Linked DNA regions of Homo sapiens. The protein of the gene in region 1 interacts with the protein of each later gene in a pairwise test. Each region holds a gene or a part of one and is shown in the gene's direction. Other genes may lie near its edges.

Region 1 (3,748 bases):
AGTCACTCCCTCAGCTACCTAGATCCTGCAGGGCTCCCCATTCTCCTTGACATTCCAGTTCTTTCCACCCGGGGCTCCACATTGCCTCCCCAACGTCACATCACACCCCAGCTCGGCTGTATCAGCCCCTCTAACCTTGCCCATCAGGCCTCTGTTCACCTGTCTCCACCTCCAGGCCCTGCCAGCAAGGCGCTTCTCCCTTTCTCTGCCTGGTCTGTGCCACGTTGCCTGAACACACAGCCCACCCCATCCCCTCAGAGCACCAGGAGCTCACATCTGGGTCCAAGACCCTACCAGGAGAGCAAGGCAAGAGAATGACGCTAAGGCCCAGCATGAGCCTACACAGAGAAGGTGCCCACTGTCTGTCAAATTCATCCATTCAACAAGTATTTAGGCTGCTCATCGTGGCTCACGCTTATAATCCCAGCACTTTGGGAGGCCAAGGTGGGAGGATGGCTTGAACCCAGGAGTTCCGGACCAGCCTGGGCAACATAGTGAAACCCGTCTCTACAAAAAAATGCAAAAATGGCCGGGCGCGGTAGTTCCCACCTGTAATCCCGGCACTTTGGGAAGCCGAGGCAGGTGGATCACCTGAGGTCGGAAGTTCGAGACCAGCCTCACCAACATGTTGAAACACCGTCTCTACTAAAAATACAAAATTAGGCCGGGCGCGGTGGCTCACGCCTGTAATCCCAGCACTTTGGGAGGCCGAGGCGGGCGGATCACGAGGTCAGGAGATCGAGACCATCCTCGCTAACACGGTGAAACCCCGTCCCTACTGAAAATACAAAAAATTAGCCGGGCGCGGTGGGGTGCCTGTAGTGCCAGCTACTCGGGAGGCTGAGAATGGCGTGAACCCTGGAGGCGGAGCTTGCATTGAGCCGAAATGGCGCCACTGCATTCCAGCCTGGGGGACAGGGCGAGACTCTGTCTCAAAAAAAAAAAAAAAAAAAAAAAAAAAAAGATTAGCTGGTTAGCCAGATGTGGTGGCACATGCCTGTAATTTCGGGAGGCTGAGGCAGGAGGATCTGTTGAACCCTGGAGGCGGAGTTTGCGGTGAGCCGAGATCGCGTCAATGCATACCAGCCTGGGCAACAAGAGCGAAACTGCGTCTCAAAAAAAAAAACAATTAGCCGGACGTGGTGGCATGTGCCCAGCTACTCAGGAGGTTGAGGCAGGAGGAACACTTGAGCCTGGGAGGTTGAGGCTAAAGTGAGCTGTGATCAGGCTCCTGCATTCCAGTCTGGGCAAGAGTGAGACCCTGCTTTACCAAAAAAAAAAAAAAAAAAAAAGGTATTTATTGAGCACCTACTATATGCTAGGCTCTGTGTGGCTAGGCTCTGGGGATGTACGGGACTTCAAACCAGATAGGGCCTTGCCCTCCGGGAGCGCACAGTCCACTGGGATGGGGTGGGAGTGGGGGAAACACGCAGGAGGCCTTCAGCTAAGTGGGACAAAGATCACTCCACAGTGGGACAATGGCGTGGGGAGCGGAGGCGCCGCCGGCGAGGAGGCTCCGGGCGGGCCGTGCTGAGACCGCAGCATTTAACCCGGCCCGAGGCAGCTGGGAACAGTGCTGCCCAGGGAACTACAAATTCAAAGGCCCGGGGAAGGGCCGCGCTGAGCAGCTGCAGGCACAGGCCCAGGCCAGGCCAGGCAGGACCGGCCCCTGCAGTCTCGGAGGCCGGGGGAAGATTCCGCCTCTTATTCTCGCTCCCATCCGGGGGGCGCCATCTTGCTTCCTTTATGGCGGCGAACGAGGCCCAGAGAGGCCACCGTCCCGCGCGGGGCAGCACAGCGGCGGGAGAGCTCGGAGCGCAGAGGGCCGCATCCCCAGTTCCCAGTCTCCATCCCCGGCAGAAGCAGGCGGAGCGACCCGGTCCCCGCCCCCGCGCCCGCCCCGCCCCGCGCGCCCGCCTGGCCCCTCGGCCCCGCCCCTGCTCCGGAGTGACGCGGGCCCGGGCGCGACGGTCTCGGCGGCGGCGGCGGCGGCGACAGAGCGAGCGCGGCGCGGGGCCACCATGGGGGCCCAGCTCAGCACGGTAGGCGGGGAGGGGGCGCCGGGGCCGCGGGGCGTCGCGAGGGACTGGGACCCGGCGGCGAGGGGGCGGGCTGGCCTGCGGGAGGTGACGCGGGACCCGGGCCGCACCCGGCCGCACCCACTTCGCCCGCCCAGCCCGCCGCGCCCCACCCCACCCCACAAGGGCCTGGGCGAGCTACGTGGTGACCGCTACTTACGCCCTGGCAGTCTGCAGCGGGGACCCAGCCCTCCTGCCCGGGGGGCGCGCCAGAGCCCAGCACCCGGGGGCACCTGGGCCCTGCCCTGGCCGCCGTGGGGCCTTGGCTGCTGGAGGGACCCGTGGTTGTGAGCGTGTGTGCCGCTGAGTGTGAGTGTGTGAGCGAGCGTGTGAATGGCTTGAGAGTGAATGTGTGTGTGAGTGTGACCGTGGGTGTGAAGGGCGGGCATGGAAACGTGTGATGGGGTGTGTGTGTGTGTACGGGAGTATGTGAATGGGCGATGTCACTGACTGCGACTGAACGTGTGTGTGTGTGCGATGTCACTATGTCAGAGGGTTTTGCACGTTTAGCAACAAGGAACAGAACCCGGATGACACGGGGGCATCCTCCCAATGCTCAGTGGGCCAGGCTCCCATCAAGGCCAGGCTCCCACTGACCCTGCAAGCTGTGCTGGGGACCTCACACTTTGCGGTGTCAGTGCTGTTTGCCCCATTTCACAGATGGGGAAATGCAAACTAGTCTTGGCCACCGTCCCACAACGCTGCCGCCGGAAGGAGCCTGCTCCATGGGGTTTCAAAGTCCACTCTGCTGCTGTCACTCCTGGGCTGGCCTAGAGCCACCTTCCCTTCCCCCCAGGCCACCTCCTCTCCCCAGTTTCTCAAAAGTTGACCATGGTGAGGCTGGAGGCTTGAGTCTGTGTGGACATGTGGAGGCTGCGGCTGCAGAGGGCAGCTCTCCTGTCAACTGTGACCCGCTAGGCGTGGGGAGGCTGGCACAGGAGGAATCAGCCCAGTGCTCCTCCACCTCCACCTCTACCTCTATGCCTGGCATCTGCCACTTGGAGGGCACCTGGGTCCTCCCTCCTTGGGGAGGACCTGGAGTCTCCTCCTTGGGGATCCAGGCAAAAGGCCTCTTGGCTTGGGTGGTTGCTAAGGAAAGTGTGGCCCAACCCAGAACTTCGGGATGTTCAGACCCCAGGCAACCTTGGCCAGGGTGAACCTGTGGGCATCACCCCAACCTCCATGCAACACCCGGCCCATTTTTCCCCAGAAAGCATCTGCCTCCTTTATTGTTGAAATGTCCTGCCTGTGTCTCTAAAGCTTCCCCTGGTCTCCACCCAACCCTTCCCTGCTGTTTTTGGTGGTGTTCCATACCTTCCAGCTGGTGGTTGGATTTATGGCCACGTCCCCTGCACCTGGCTGCTCCATACATTTCTTTTTTCTTTTTTCTTTTTTGAGAAGAGTCTCTCACCCAGACAGTAGTGCAGTGGCGCGATCATAGCTCACTGCAGCCTCAACCTCTTGGGCACAAGTGATCCTTCTACCTCAGTGTCCTGAGTACAGGCACGTGCCAATATGCCTGGCTAAGTTTTTTTTTTTTGAGATGGAGTCTCTCTCTGTCACCCAGGTTGGAGTGCAGTGGCATGATCTCAGCTCACTGCAACCTCCACTTCCTGGGCTCCAGCAATTCTCCTGCCTCAGCCTCCCAAGTAGCTGGGATTACAGGCACT
Region 2 (3,748 bases), on another chromosome or scaffold:
CCAGTCATAAAAGGAAAAATATTGCATGATTCCACTTATATGAGGTACCTAGAGTAGTCAATTTCATAGAAACACAAAATAGAATGGTGTTTGCCAGGGCTTTTGAGGAAAAGGGAATGACAAGTTAGGGGACAGAGTTTCAGTTTTGAAAGATGAAAAAGTTCTAGAGATGAATGGTGATGACAGTTCATTAAGTGAATTACTTAATGCCACAGAACTGTATGCTTAAAAACGGTTAAAATAGTAAATATATGTTATATATATTTACCACAATAAAAATTTATTGACTATATATGTGTGGCTCTATTTCTGGACTCTATGTGTCTTTCTTACATCAATACCATAGTAATCACTATCCTGAGTACTACGACTTTATAGTAAGTTGTGAGGTAGTGTAGTGTATATCCTTCAACTTTGCACTGCCTTTTGAAAGTTCTTTTGGCTATTGGAGGCTCTAAGCATTTTCATATAAATTTTAGAATCATCTTGTCAGTTTCCAGCAAGCCTGCTAGAATTTTGGTTGAGATTATATTGAACCTATAGATGAATTTGGGGATAATTAACATCTTAACAATATTTGGTTTTCTGACCCATGAGCATAGTATATCTTTTTATTTATTTGGGTACTTAATTTCTCTCAGCAGTGTTTTGTAGTTTTCAGTGTCCAGATGTTGTATTTTTTTCTTTGTCAAATTGATCCTTAAGTATTTTCTTTTATTTTTTATTATTATACTTTAAGTTCTAGGGTACATGTGCACAGTGTGCAGGTTTGTTACATATGTATGCATGTGCCATGTTGGTGTGCTGCACCAGTTAACTCATCATTTACATTAGATATATCTCCTAATGCTATCCCTCCTCCCTCCCCCCACCCCATGACAGGACCCGGTGTGTGATGTTCCCCACCCTGTGTCCAAGTGTTCTCATTGTTCAGTTCCCACCTATGAGTGAGAACATGCGGTGTTTGGTTGTCTGTCTTTGCGATAGTTTGCTCAGAATGATGGTTTCCAGCTTCATCCATGTCCCTACAAAGGACATGAACTCATCCTTTTTTATGGCTGCGTAGTATTCCATGGTGTATATGTGCCACATTTTCTTAATCCAGTCTGTCACTGATGGACATTTGGGTTGGTTCCAAGTCTTTGCTATTGTGAATAGTGCCACAATAAACATATGTGTGCATGTGTCTTTATAGCAGCATGATTTATAATCCGTTGTGGGAAGTCAGCGACCCCGAATGGAGGGACTGGCTGAAGCCATGGCAGAAGAGCATAAATTGTGAAGATTTCATGGACATTTATTGGTTCCCCAATTTAATACTTTTATAATTTCTTACACCTGTCTTTATTGCAATCTCTGAACATAAATTGTGAAGATTTCATGGACATTTATCACTTCCCCAGTCAATACTCTTGTGATTTCCTGTGCCTGTCTTTACTTTAATCTCTTAATCCCGTCATCTTCGTAAGCTGAGGATGTATGTCGCCTCAGGACCCTGTGATGATTGCATTAACTGCACAAATTGTTTGTAAAGCATGTGTGTTTAAACAATATGAAATCTGGTCACCTTGAAAAAAGAACAGGATAACAGCGATGTTCAGGGAACAAGGGAGATAACCATTAGGTCTGACTGCCTGAAAGCTGGGCAGAACAGAGCCATATTTCTCTTCTTACAAAAGCAAATAGGAGAAATATCACTGAATTCTTTTTCTCAGCAAGGAACAGTCCTGAGAAAGAGAATGCATTCCTAGGGGAGGTTTCTAAAATGGCTGCTCTGGGAATGTGTGTCTTATATGTTGCAGATAAGGGATGAAATAAGCCCTGGTCTCCCAGGCCTATTAGAACGAGGAAATTCCTGCCCAGTAAATTTTAGTCAGACCAGTTGTCTGCTCTCAAACCCTGTCTCCTGATAAGATGTTATCAATGACAGTGCGTGCCCGAAACTTCATTAGCAATTTTAATTTTGCCCCAGTCGTGTGATCTTGCTCTGCCCCCATTTGCCTTGTGATATTTTATTGCCTTGTGAAGCATGTGATCTCTATAATCCACACCCTATTAGTACACTCCCTCCCCTTTGAAAATCACAACAAAATCTTGCTGGTTTTGCGGCGTAGGGGGGCATCACAGAACCTGCCGACACGTGATGTCTCCCCCAGACACACAGTTTTAAAATTTCTCTCTTTTGTAGTCTTTCCCTTTATTACTCAGACCAGCCGACACTTAGGGAAAATAGAAAAGGTCCTATGTTGAATTATCGGGGGTGGTTCCCTTGATATAATCCTTTGGGTATATGCCCAGTAATGGGATGGCTGGGTCAAATGGTATTTCTAGTTCTAGATCCCTGAGGAATCGCACACTGACTTCCACAATGGTTGAACTAGTTTACACTCCCATCAACAGTGTAAAAGCGTTCCTGTTTCTCCACATCCTCTCCAGCACCTGTTGTTTCCTGACTTTTTAATGATCGCCATTCTAACTGGTGTGAGATGGTATCTTATTGTGGTTTTGATTTGCATTTCTCTGATGGTCAGTGATGATGAGCATTTTTTCATGTGTCTGTTGGCTGCATAAATGTCTTCTTTTGAGAAGTGTCTGTTCATATCCTTCGCCCACTTTTTGATGGGGTTGTTTGATTTTTTCTTGTAAATTTCTTTACGTTCTTTGTAGATTCTGGATACTAGCCCTTTGTCAGATGGGTAGATTGTAAAAATTTTCTCCCATTCTGTAGGTTGCCTGTTCACTCTGATGGTAGTTTCTTTTGCTGTGCAGAAGCTCTTTAGTTTAATGAGATCCCATTTGTCAATTTTGGCTTTTGTTGACATTGCTTTTGGTGTTTTATTCATGAAATCCTTGCCCATGCCTATGTCCTGAATGATATTGCCTAGGTTTTCTTCTAGGGTTTTTATGGTTTTAGGTTTAACATTTAAGTCTTTAATCCATCTTGAATTAATTTTTGTATAAGGTGTAAGGAAGGGATCCAGTTTCAGCTTTCTACATATGGCTAGCCAGTTTTCCCAGCACCATTTATTAAATAGGGATTCCTTTCCCTATTTCTTGTTTTTGTCAGGTTTGTCAAAGATCAGATGGTTGTAGATGTCTGGTATTATTTCTGAGGGCACTATTCTGTTCCATTGGTCTATATCTCTGTTTTGGTACCAGTACCATGCTGTTTTGGTTACTGTAGCCTTGTAGTATAGTTTGAAGTCAGGTAGCGTGACGCCTCCAACTTTGTTCTTTTGGCTTAGGATTGTCTTGGCAATGTGGGCTCTTTTTTGGTTCCATATGAACTTTAAAGTAGTTTTTTCCAATTCTGTGAAGAAAGTCATTGGTAGCTTGATGGGGATGGCACTGAATCTATAAATTACCTTGGGCAGTATGGCCATTTTCACAATATTGATTCTTCCTATCCATGAGCATGGAATGTTCTTCCATTTGTTTGTGTCCTCTTTTATTTCGTTGAGCAGTGGTTTGTAGTTCTCCTTGAAGAGGTCCTTCACATCCATTGTAAGTTGGATGCCTAGGTATTTTATTCTCTTTGAAGCAATTGTGAATGGGAGTTCACTCATGATTTGGCTTTCTGTTTGTCTGTTATTGGTGTATAGGAATGCTTGTGATTTTTGCACATTGATTTTCATAATTTCTGATGCTACTAAAAATGACATTTCAGATGGTGTTTCAAAATTTTAAAATGTCATACTTATTGCTAGTATAAATATCATTTTGTAAATTAACCTTGTATTCTACAATC
Region 3 (3,748 bases), on another chromosome or scaffold:
ACCATTTCCATTTTGTAATAGAACTCTTCGGGGACTGCCCTCCCCGTTAGAGCTTTTCCAAGATCTCTGAAGACATCATGAGTTTTTCAGGTTTCAAGATTATTTTATGTCCTTCAGTCACAGGGGGAGCTTCAGCTAGTGTTCCATCGTAAGCTAGTAAGTGCCTCTCAAATGGAAACTTTATAGTCTAAAGGCCCAGTTCCCTGGAGGTGCTCACAGCCTTTTGCCATTAGCCCTAGGCAGTGCTCCACACAGGGCACAGAGAATGTGTGTTACCTGCAGTCTGGTTTCTAGTCTACACTGTGTAGTCCACCCTCCAGGGCCAAGGGGCCTGGAGTGCTCTAAAGACTTTCCTGCAGGCCCTCGTGGCTCTGTGTTAATGCTGTCAGTCTTCCTGAAGTCCTGTCCTCTCACCTCCTGCCTAGATCTGCCCCCAGCACACATTCCTGACTCCACACATTTCTCAGTGCCTGCGACCTGGCACACATTTCTGATCCGAACTCAGTGCCTGGGGCCTGGCAGGTGCCCAGGGCACTCCATTGCTCAAATCCAAGCCTGTGGAGAGGATGACATATCATTCCCAGGTTTCTGATGAGCAGAAAAAAAAATCTTTGTTTCTATAGTGCTATCCTCTTTTATCCACCATGTGAGAGGTCAGGAGCCGACTCACCCCAAGGGTCTAGGAGTTGTGCCATTGACCTTACTGCCTAGGGTCACAGGCTGGCACCCTTCAGTACCACACATTGGATCTCTCCACACAGCAGCAGTGTGCTTAACTCAATGGGGAGGTGAGTAGCCCAAGGTCAGATAGTTGGACCTGGATAGACACTTGACTGGGGGACAGGCTTTGGAAGCCACTCCCCTGGGCCTCCTCTGTCCATGGGGCCTCAATACTAGAGCCCACAAGGTCGGCCAGAGAGTGTCTGTGCCTCGACCATGCAAAGGGTGCCAGGTTGTGGCTAGGGATGCCCCCGGGGTTCCTCTCCCTCCTACCTACTCCTCAGCCTCTGCATGTGCCCGTCATGGCCCCTGTGTCCTTCATTCTGTCCACTCATGTGTTCACTGGGCCCCTCCTTGGTGCCAGGCACCCGCTACTGAGGGATACCAAGCCCCTGCCAGAGAAGCTTGGAGCTGGGTCACAGCAGCAAGGAGGCTGGAGACATCAGTGGCATCAGTGCACTGGTCAGTGAGGCCGCTGTGGGAGGAGGGAGTGGGAGCAGAAGCTAAGAGTGGACTGAAGTCCTTAGGCCAGGAGGTAGTTCAGGGTTTAAGAAGAGGAGAGACAGGCGTCCCGGGGAGGGAGCAGGCTCAGGATGGGCCTCCAGTGCCTCCTCTGGAGCTCACTACCCAGACTACAGCAGCGCAGTGGGCAGCGCCTCAGCTCCTTCCCCTTCTGCTGCCTACAGCCTGGACAGGACCCGGAATCAAACCGCAGGCCCTGGGTCACCGCTGCCGGAAAGAGCCAGTTCCTGTCCGTCCATGCACCCACCACCAAAACCCAGGCCTTCCTGGAGGTGCTAGGGGAGGCCATGCCCCTTTTCTGAGTGCTTGGAAGTGACTGCTGCAAGTGACAAGTGACCACGCCTTTTCCCCCGCGGGTATAAATTCAGAGGCGCTGCGCTCCGATTCTGGCAGTGCAGCTGTGGGAACCTCTCCACGCGCACGAACTCAGCCAACGATTTCTGATAGATTTTTGGGAGTTTGACCAGAGATGCAAGGGGTGAAGGAGCGCTTCCTACCGTTAGGGAACTCTGGGGACAGAGCGCCCCGGCCGCCTGATGGCCGAGGCAGGGTGCGACCCAGGACCCAGGACGGCGTCGGGAACCATACCATGGCCCGGATCCCCAAGACCCTAAAGTTCGTCGTCGTCATCGTCGCGGTCCTGCTGCCAGTGAGTCCCGGCCGCGGTCCCTGGCTGGGGAAGAGCGCACCTGGCGCCGGGAGGGGGCAGGGAGACGGGGACACGGCAGGGATGCCTGGCCCTGGTCACCTGCGGCCGGGCATGTCCGGGCAGGACGAACTCGCCGTCGGAGTCAGGGGAAGAACTGGGTCCCCGGGCTGGGCAGGAGGGACCCGGCCGCGAGGGAGCAGAGAGGCGGTCCCCCTGGCTGCCCCGAGCCCGCGAAGGGAGGGAAGTTCCAGAATCGAGAGAGGGAGGGAGTCAAGGTGGAACCCATAGAGTGAGCCTCCTGAAGACACAGAGCGGTTGCCTCTCTCATTAATTAATTAATTAGTTAATAAAATTAACCCCATGTTTACATTCTTAAACGTGTTCCTTGGAGATCGGTTTAACCAACAGCCAGTGAAAAAACTTTTCAGCGCTGTCTTTAGCAACTTTCACCTCCTCTGTCCTGAAAGTGGCAGGAAGCCGGAATGTGGCAGGAAGCGGTTAACCAAGGTGCTGCCTTGGTTAATGTCTTCCACTACCACCCGTGTGTCCCCTCTGTATCCCATAGGCAGGACCGGGGCTGGCCCCTTCCTTCAGCATAAACGGTGTAAAGTTGTTGTGAGTTGGCTTTGGAAACTGAGATTGGTAGTAGTGTGAGTGCAAGGACATATTATGTATAAAATATGCAGACTTCTAGGTCTCTTTCAGATTGATTGAGGTTTTTGCTAACAGCCCTTTTTAAGATTCTTTATGTAATACAAAAAAAAGAAAAAAGAAAAAGAAAAGGCCAAAGCAAGGTTACAGAAACCATGAGAGTTTGCATGTTGTCTTTCTACAAATTAATGCTAAATTCAGAAAAGCAGTAACATTTTCACCTCTCAAAAATTACACAACTGACTTTTAAAATAGTTTATAGTGGGTGGACTTACCTGAGGCAGCTAGAAGAATGGCTGTGTCAGGACAGTGGCCCTGAAGAGAGAATGCATGGATGACCAGTGTAGACAAGGCCAGCAACATCAGTTTCACGGTTTTGGGAATGTGAACTCTATGCGTCCCAAAGGAGGCTTTAATCCCTCCATCAGTCTTGCCTTATTAAATGCATTTAAATGTACAATCACTTTGTTAAATTTTGGAGCTAACACAAATCACATTAGATGTTTTATGGCAGTACATTCAGATTGATCTTCTTTTAAACAAGGGTATTGTATTTTACTGCATGGGTAAGCCACATTTTAATTCACTGTTGCCGCCTAGGGGCAGCTGGTTAGATCCCATCCTGACGGCCTTTGCTAATTCCAACAGCATTGTACTAAATACCCTTGTATGTATCGTGTGTCCACATATCCATGCACACCAGCTTATTGGGCAACTCCTTACAAGTTGAATTCTACTTCTCCTTCTGTGGGATAAATGACTTCAGAAGTTTCTTTAAATGTTCACGAATTTTCCTCCAAAAAACCACTGAACCCAGCTTACAGTCACACCTAGTCCACAAATGTGCCTGTGTCCCTACACCTTTGCTACACTTAGCTTTCATTCTTTACTAGTCTAAGATGTAAAACATAACACATCACATTGCTATGTATTTTTGTTTCCTCATGGTATTAGGAATTTTCAAGGATATAGGAGTTTTTTGGTACTGGGAGTAGACCAGGGTATCCAGATGAGACAGCAGGGAAGACTGAATTCTGAGCTGTGCACTTGGAAAACCCTGGTCAGTTGGGGCCAGTCCCTGCCACCCACCATGCCTGTGAATGGAGATAAGGTCTCCATCCTCAGCCTGTCAGGGTGACTTCAGATGAGCCTGGAGCTGAGTTCAGTTCCTGACCCCAGGTCCTGGCTCTGTCAATGCTGGGCTGG

What was found.
Region 2: the proteins of CYB5R3 (region 1) and VAMP4 interact in binary tests that used the Homo sapiens proteins (3 or more experiments, as listed by UniProt).
Region 3: the proteins of CYB5R3 (region 1) and TNFRSF10C interact in binary tests that used the Homo sapiens proteins (3 or more experiments, as listed by UniProt).

What each region holds. Positions count from the first base shown.
Region 1 is NC_000022.11:42,647,589-42,651,336, reverse strand, and holds the start of CYB5R3 (NADH-cytochrome b5 reductase 3), read left to right. Parts: upstream 1-1,944; 5' UTR 1,945-2,021; coding exon 2,022-2,042; intron 2,043-3,748. UniProt on the Homo sapiens protein: Catalyzes the reduction of two molecules of cytochrome b5 using NADH as the electron donor.
Region 2 is NC_000001.11:171,721,451-171,725,198, reverse strand, and holds part of VAMP4 (vesicle-associated membrane protein 4), read left to right. Parts: intron 1-3,748. UniProt on the Homo sapiens protein: Involved in the pathway that functions to remove an inhibitor (probably synaptotagmin-4) of calcium-triggered exocytosis during the maturation of secretory granules.
Region 3 is NC_000008.11:23,101,291-23,105,038, forward strand, and holds the start of TNFRSF10C (tumor necrosis factor receptor superfamily member 10C precursor), read left to right. Parts: upstream 1-1,630; 5' UTR 1,631-1,831; coding exon 1,832-1,891; exon of another isoform or gene 1,892-2,268; intron 2,269-3,748. UniProt on the Homo sapiens protein: Receptor for the cytotoxic ligand TRAIL. Lacks a cytoplasmic death domain and hence is not capable of inducing apoptosis. May protect cells against TRAIL mediated apoptosis by competing with TRAIL-R1 and R2 for binding to the ligand.